Homo sapiens: one gene and its partner. The protein of the gene in region 2 purifies or fractionates together with the protein of the main gene of each other region. This does not show direct contact. Each region holds a gene or a part of one and is shown on either strand. Other genes may lie near its edges. The genes, in order: MCAM and FUT2.

What was found.
Region 1: the proteins of FUT2 (region 2) and MCAM purify together in Homo sapiens (co-immunoprecipitation; one study listed by IntAct). This does not show direct contact.

The regions. Positions count from the first base shown.
Region 1 is NC_000011.10:119,307,719-119,311,079, forward strand, and holds the end of MCAM (cell surface glycoprotein MUC18 precursor), read right to left. Parts: intron 3,186-3,361; coding exon 3,038-3,185; intron 2,749-3,037; coding exon 2,631-2,748; intron 2,198-2,630; coding exon 2,168-2,197; 3' UTR 811-2,167; downstream 1-810. UniProt on the Homo sapiens protein: Plays a role in cell adhesion, and in cohesion of the endothelial monolayer at intercellular junctions in vascular tissue.
Region 2 is NC_000019.10:48,694,214-48,698,123, reverse strand, and holds the start of FUT2 (galactoside alpha-(1,2)-fucosyltransferase 2), read right to left. Parts: upstream 2,154-3,910; 5' UTR 2,035-2,153; intron 1-2,034.

The DNA of each region.
Region 1 (3,361 bases), on a different chromosome or scaffold from region 2:
ATTTTGAAATTCTTAGCCTGGGAGTGCTGGAGAGAACCTGATGCTTTCTCCAGAATGAAGAGTCCCAATTTGTATATCAGTGTTAAGAAGAAAACAAAACAAACACATAGGTGAGATTTTCGTGGACTATTTTAAAAATGTGTCATTAATATAAAAAATTTATATTAGCAGTATTTAATCATTCTCACCTGTAAAGAATAAGAAAAACAGAAGGTAAATATTCTTACAGAGAATAGCAGAGCTTTAAGATTCATTTTCATTTTAAGTCCATTTTATTTTGCCAGTGTATTAATGTTTAGAAGTCTGTTTTACTAATGTTATTTATTAATTTTTTTTCATTTCCATACACAGTTAGTTAACTAAAGAGCTTTTTCAAGCACCCATGTCTGTAAAAAAATATTTTTAAATAAAGTTTCTTTTGTTGTAGCAGACTTGAGTTCTTGCTCATTCAGGGGGTTGGGAGGCAATACTCGAGTTGCCGTAGGACCAAATGCCAAGGCCCCCTTCCTCATGGCGGTGAGCCTGAGCTGCTGTCTGGAGGGCAGTTCCAAGTGGCAGGAAAGCATAGGAAGGGGACATAGCTCCTGCTAACAGCCTGCCAGGCCCTTCGTGCTGCGTCATCAGGGCAGTTTTGCTGCTGAAAAGTAGGGTGACTGTCTGCTCTGGTAGAACTTGAGCCATTTGCTCAGAAGCAGAGGTAACCCCTGATCTCTGCTGCCAACTGGAAACGGTTTTGTGTGCCTTTTGGTTGTAGTTTCACAGGCCCCCAGGTTCCTGTGGTACCCATGATGAATAAAAAGCAATGTATGATTTCTGGGACAATTAAGCTTTATTTTTCATATATATATATATTTTCATATATATATATACATACATATATAAAGGAAACAATTTGCAAATTTACACACCTGACAAAACCATATATACACACATATGTATGCATACACACAGACAGACACACACACCCGAAGCTCTAGCCAGGCCCGTTTTCCATCCCTAAGTACCATTCTCTCATTTGGGCCCTTCTAGGGTTGGGGCCCTGAGCTTGGTTTGTAGAAGTTTGGTGCTAATATAACCATAGCTTTAATCCCCATGAAGGACAGTGTAGACCTCATCTTTGTCTGCTCCCCGCTGCCTTTCAGTTTTACGTGATCCATCAAGAGGGCTATGGGAGCCAAGTGAACACGGGGGATTGAGGCTAATTCACCTGAACTCGAAAACAGCGCCCAGCTTCCTCACCGCAGGCACGTATCTTTTCTTTTTTTTTCCTCGAGACGGAGTCTCGCTGTGTTGCCCAGGCTGGAGTGCAGTGGCACGGTCTCGGCTCACTGCAAGCTCCACCTCCTGGATTCATACCATTCTCCTGCTTCAGCCTTCCGAGTAGCTGGGACTATAGGTGCCAACCACTACGCCTAGCTAATTTTTTTTTGTATTTTTAGTAGAGACAGGGTTTCACCGTGTTAGCCAGGATGGTCTCGTCCTGACTTTGTGATCCGCCCGCCTCGGCCTCCCAAAGTGCTGGGATTACAGGCGTGAGCCACCACACCTGGCCCCGGCACGTATCTTTTAAGGAATGACACCAGTTCCTGGCTTCTGACCAAAGAAAAAATGTCACAGGAGACTTTGAAGAGGCAGACAGGAGGGTGGTGGCAGCAACACTGCAGCTGCTTCTGGATGCTGCTGGGGTGCTCTCCGGAGCGGGTGTGAACAGCGCACTTCAACATGAGCAGGCGCCTGGCTCCGGTGTGTCCTCACTTCAGTGGTGCACCTGGATGGTGGAAGCCAGCCTTTGGGGCAGGAAACCAGCTCAGAGAGGCTACCCAGCTCAGCTGCTGGCAGGAGCCAGGTATTTACAGCCATAATGTGTGTAAAGAAAAAACACGTTCTGCAAGAAACTCTCCTACCCGCTCGGGAGACTGGGGCTCCTTGCTTGGGATGAGCTTCACTCAACGTGGAGGAGATGGTGGTGGACTGGTCCCTGAAAAGCGGGCCTTGCAGGGCCAAGTGAGGTCCTCAGGTCCTAACCCAGTGGCCCTCTGAAAGGGGGTGTGCAGGCGAGGGGAGCAGGAGGCTTCTCTCTAGTCCCTTTGGAGGCTTTGGCTGAGAGAAGAGTGAGCAGGGAGCTGGGAATGGTCCAGGCAGGGAAGGGAGCTGAAGTGATTCGGGGCTAATGCCTCAGATCGATGTATTTCTCTCCCTAAAAGTGGGTAGAGGAGAAGAGGGGAACACGGAGACGGTGCTGAGTTGAAGGTGTGAGCACCGAGAGGAAGGAGAGATGGAAGCAGAAGCCGATGAATTTGGTGGGCAGCGTTGGGGAGGAAGCTAGGATGGGCATGGCAGGCCAGGGAAGGAGGGCGGCCCCCGTCTGACTGCACTGGTGAAATGGCCACACCCAGAGCCACGGGCATTGGTCAGGAAAAGGTGATGGGACAGGGTCTTTCTCAGTCTTCCTCCAAGCTCCCTCAGCCACTTGCTTGGCCCTGCCATCTGTGAGTAGTGTTAAGAAGGCAAGATGGGGCCTGCTCCCTATCTCTGACAAAGAGGGATGAAGGATAGAGAGAACCGTTAGTCCCTACTGCCCCCGGTCCCTGAGGATGTGGCAGGCTCTGGCCACAGGAACCGCCTCCTACCTGGTCTCCCGGAGCCCTCTTGTCACCGCTGCTGCCCTGCAGGAGGCCCATCTCTTCTGGGAGCTTATCTGACTTAACTTCAACTACAAGTTCGCTCTTACGAGACGGGGGTAGCGTGCTGGGAGGAGGGAGGGAGGTGAGAGGTTGGTATCTCAGGGCCACAGGAAGAGAAGGGCCCGCTGTGAAGGATGTGGAATGGATGAGGGCTCCTTGCTCCAGGGCCAGCCCAGGGCAGGGAAGCAGGTCATGAGACCATGTGGCTGATGGAAGCTGGGCAGTGGGTAGTGGAGCAGGCAGCACCCTGACCCAGGGCCCCACTCCTGCTGTCAAGGGGCAGGCGGGCGCTGGGCAGGCAGCAGGCTGGGTGGCAAAACGGGCGGGGGCGGAGGGGCCGGTGTTGGGCTTACATCTCCTGCTTCCCTGAGCGCCTGCACGGCAGCTTGCCCTTCTTATAGAGGAAATAGAGGACAGCGCCCAGCACCGCCAGGACCAGGATGCACACAATCACAGCCACGATGACCACGCCCCGGCTCTCCGGCTCCGGCAGCTTTCTCTCTGCGCCACAAAGACACTCCTCGTCACTCCCTGCCCCAGGCCACTTCGTCACCATCGTTGGCCCAGCCAGTCCAGGGCCGACAAGATGGGGCTGCTACTCACCTTTCTGGACAGGGCTCTCTGGGGAGGGACAGGGCAGAAAGGATGCCCTGGCACAGCCCTGTTCTCTTGCCAGG
Region 2 (3,910 bases):
CAGGGGGTTGTGGGGAGGGATAAAAACAACACCTCCCCAGAGGTTTCAGTGAGCTGAGATCACACCATTGCACTCCAGCCTGCACAACACAGTGAGACTCCGTCTCAAAAAAAAAAAAAAAAAAAAAAAAGAGCCAGTGCAGTGGCTCATGCCTGTAATCCCAGCACTTTGGTAGGCTGAGGCGGGTGGATCACCTGAGGTCAGGAGTTCGAGACCAGCCTGACTAATATGGTGAAACCCCATTTCTACTAAATACAAAAAATTAGCCAGGCATGGTGGCTCATGACTGTAATCTCAGCTACTTGGGAGGCTGAGGAAGGAGAATCGCTTGAACCTGGGAGGCGGAGGTTGCAGTGAGCCGAGATTGTACCATTGCATGCCAGCCTGGGCAACAAGAGCAAAAATCCATCTCAAAAAGATACAACAACAACAACAAACCACACCTCCCTTAGGGCTGCGTGGGCACAAAGGGAAATGCTGTATTACATGGGCTGTCCCTGGTATTCAGAGCAGAATTTGTGCCCCAAACTCACACTTATGTCAGGCTTGAACCAAGCACCACTCCCATTCTGCCTGAAGGCATTATTTTTTTTGAATTGCTTTTTTTGTAGGGATGGTGGGGAGGGGGTCTTGCTATGTGGCCCACACTGATCTCAAACTCCTGGCCTCAGGAGGTCCTCTGTTCTCCTTCCTCAGCCTCCCAAAGTGCTGGGATTACAGGCATGAGACACCACACCTGGTCTATCTTACTGAGATTTTTTTTTTTTTTTTTTTTTTTGAGACGGAGTTTTGCTCTTGTTCCCCAGGCTGGAGTGCAATGGCACAATCTCGGCTCACCACAACCTCCGCCTCCCGGGTTCAAACGATTCTCCTGCCTCAGCCTCCCGAGTAGCTGGGATTACAGGCATGCACCACCACGCCTGGCTAATTTTGTATTTTTAGTAGAGACGGGGTTTCTCCATGTTGGCCAGACTGGTCTCGAACTCCTGACCTCAAGTGATCCGCCTGTCTCGGCCTCCCAAAGTGCTGGGATTACAGGCGTCAGCCACCACGTCCAGCCCCGTCCACGTCTTTCTATTGCGGCCCGGCTTCCTCCTCTCCCCTCTGTCCCCTACACCCAGCGCCGGCCCTGCCCCTTCCCAGCTCGCAGCCCCTTCAGGGCTCCCTATGCCTCTTAAGACACAATCCCAGTCTCTCGCCGGCCCCGCACACCCCTCCGGCTTTGTCACCAGCTGTTCCCGTGAAATAACCCAGCTCTCCGCTCACCCGGGGCCCCGTCCTGTCCCCCAGCTCTGAAAGCCTTTCTCTACCCCAACCGCCCCGTGCCCCGGGCAGCTCAGCACATCCGGCTCAGTCGCACCCCACTGCCTCGAGCTCGCTGTCTTCCTGCACCTCCCCGGGATTCCCGGATTCCCGGCATTATCACTTCCACCCTGGGGAGGAGAAGGGAGCTTCAGACAATAACGTAGGGCCATCACTTGGAAACCCCACCTTTATTCTCCGACCCAGAACAGAAGCGGTGATTCAGAGCGGGATTAGGGAGTGCAGGAGGGACGGAGCCGCCCTCCCTGGGCGACGGCAGGGCTCGGAGGTGAGACCAGCAGTTTGGGTTCCATGAAGCCTCTGAGGAGCCCCAGGGTGGAGGCAGGAAAGTCGGGTCACCACCAGCTGTGCGCGAGCCATCTGCACCATTACTGCCAGGGTGGTTCATAGAAACTGCTGAGGGGAAGGAGACAAGGAAGGACCTGGTGGCCCGGGGTGGAGAAGGGGAGGGAGCTGGTGGTTGGAGCTCTAGAAACAGATCCACCTGGAAGGAAGTGGGGAGGGAGCTAAGGAGGGCGGCTGGCTGGGGAGGGGGGTCCTGGCTGCCGAGGGAGGGACCCTCCTCTCCTGGAGGTCCTGAGTTGGGGGTGCCTCCCAGAGGGCACCAGGGACCCACGAGGGCACACAGGTCCACGTCCCAAATCCCTGCTCTCCGCCTGGGCGTGTGTGCAGAGGTGTGCGTGTTGTAGGGTGGGAGAGGAGCCCCCTCACCTTCTCTCACCTGGTCCTGCTGAAGGAAACCGGGACAGAGTGGTTGGGCAGGCACCTCAGTGTTCCCTCTGGGTCTCTCTTCACTCAGGGCCAAAGAAACCCTTCCAGCATCGGTGACTGGCAAACCCCGCCCAGGAGCTACAGGGCTTTCCAGAGCAGGTGTGGCTGGGCTGCGGGAGGGAGGTGAGCCCGTAGCCCCTCCTCCCTCCCCATTGCCGGCCACAAAGTCCATCTTGTTATCTACCCTTAGCTCCTCCACCTGCACCAGGCACCCCAAGCCTGGCCATAAGGGTGGGGGAGAGAGGCAGGACAAGGTCGCATCCCCCATCCGGGTCCCCGAGGGTCTTCCTTGGGGAACTGTTGTGATGCCCCAACAGAAAGGGGCCCCCACTCTGCTCCGCTCCTCCAGGCAGCCAGGAAGGCCTCCAGGAAGGCAGCATGGAGGCGGGGGACAGAGTCCTGCTAGGCCAGGCTCTCGCTGACTCTGAGTCCCCTCAGAGTCTTATATTTATTTATTAATTAATTATTAGTAGTATTACTTTTTGAGAGAGTTTTGCTCTTGTTGCCCAGGCTGGAGTGCAATGGCGTGATCTCAGCTCACTGCAACCGCCGCCTCACAAGTTCAAGGGATTCTCCTGCCTCAGCTTCCCAAAGTGCTGGGATTACAGACGTGAGCCACCTCGCCCTGCCTATTTCAAAAAAATTTTTAAATACAAATGGGCCCGGTGTGGTGACTCACACCTGTAATTCTAGCACTTTGGGAGGCCGAGGCAGGCGGATCAACTGAGGTCAGGAGTCAGAGACCAGCCTGGCCAACAAGGTGAAACCCCGTCCTTATAAGAATACAGAAATTAGCCATGGCCCAGCACAGTGGCTCATGCCTGTAATCCCAGCACTTTGGGAGGCCGAGGCAGGTGGATCACCTGAGGTCAGGAGTTTGAGACCAGTCTGGCCAACATGGTGAAACCCTGTCTCTACTAAAAATGCAAAAATCAGTGGGGCGTGGTGGCATGCACCTGTAATCCCAGCTACTTGGGAGGCTGAGGCAGGAGAATCGCTTGAACTTGGGAGGCGGAGGTTGCAGTAAACTGAGATTACACCATTGCACTCCAGCCTGGGAAACAAGAGCAAAACTCTGTCTCAAAAAAAAAAAAGATGGATGAGGAATTTTACTGAGAGAAGAGGCAGGCACCACCAGAGCTCCCAGCAGTCCTAACAGGAGGAAAGAGAAACCAGCAGCCACTCCCCAGCTTCAGCTAAGCAGCAGGAGGCTACCTACCAGCTACGGAGCTCCCTTCAAACAAACAAACAAAAAAATCAGATCAAGCTTCCCACTCTAACCACCAGTTTGCAGAAAACAGGAGGACAAAGTTCCCAGTGAAACGACACCATGAGGCAGCAATCAGCCCAGTCCAGAATGTGAGCCCGTCCACAGGACAAACGACCTGTTTCCCTGTGATTCAGCGACAAGGAAAAAAGAAACAGGGTGGGGCGGGGAAGTGGGGAGGTGAGCTGTCATAAAATATGCAAAACAGGCCAGGTGTGGTGGCTCACGCCTGTAATCCCAGCACTTTGGGAGGCTGAGTCGGGCGGATCACGAGGTCAGGAGATTGAGACCATCCTGGCTAATACAGTGAAACCCCGTCTCTACTAAAAATATATATAAAAAAAAAATTAGCCGGGCGTGGTGGTGGGTGCCTGTAGTCCCAGCTACTTGGGAGGCTGAGGCAGGAGAATGGCGTGAACCCCGGGGGCGGAGCTTGCAGTGAGCCGAGGTCACACCACTGCACTCCAGCCTGGGCGACAGAGCAAGACTCCCTCTCAAAAAAAAAAAAAAAAAAAAAACGCAAAACAGATTTGGGGCTCAGAGGCTTAG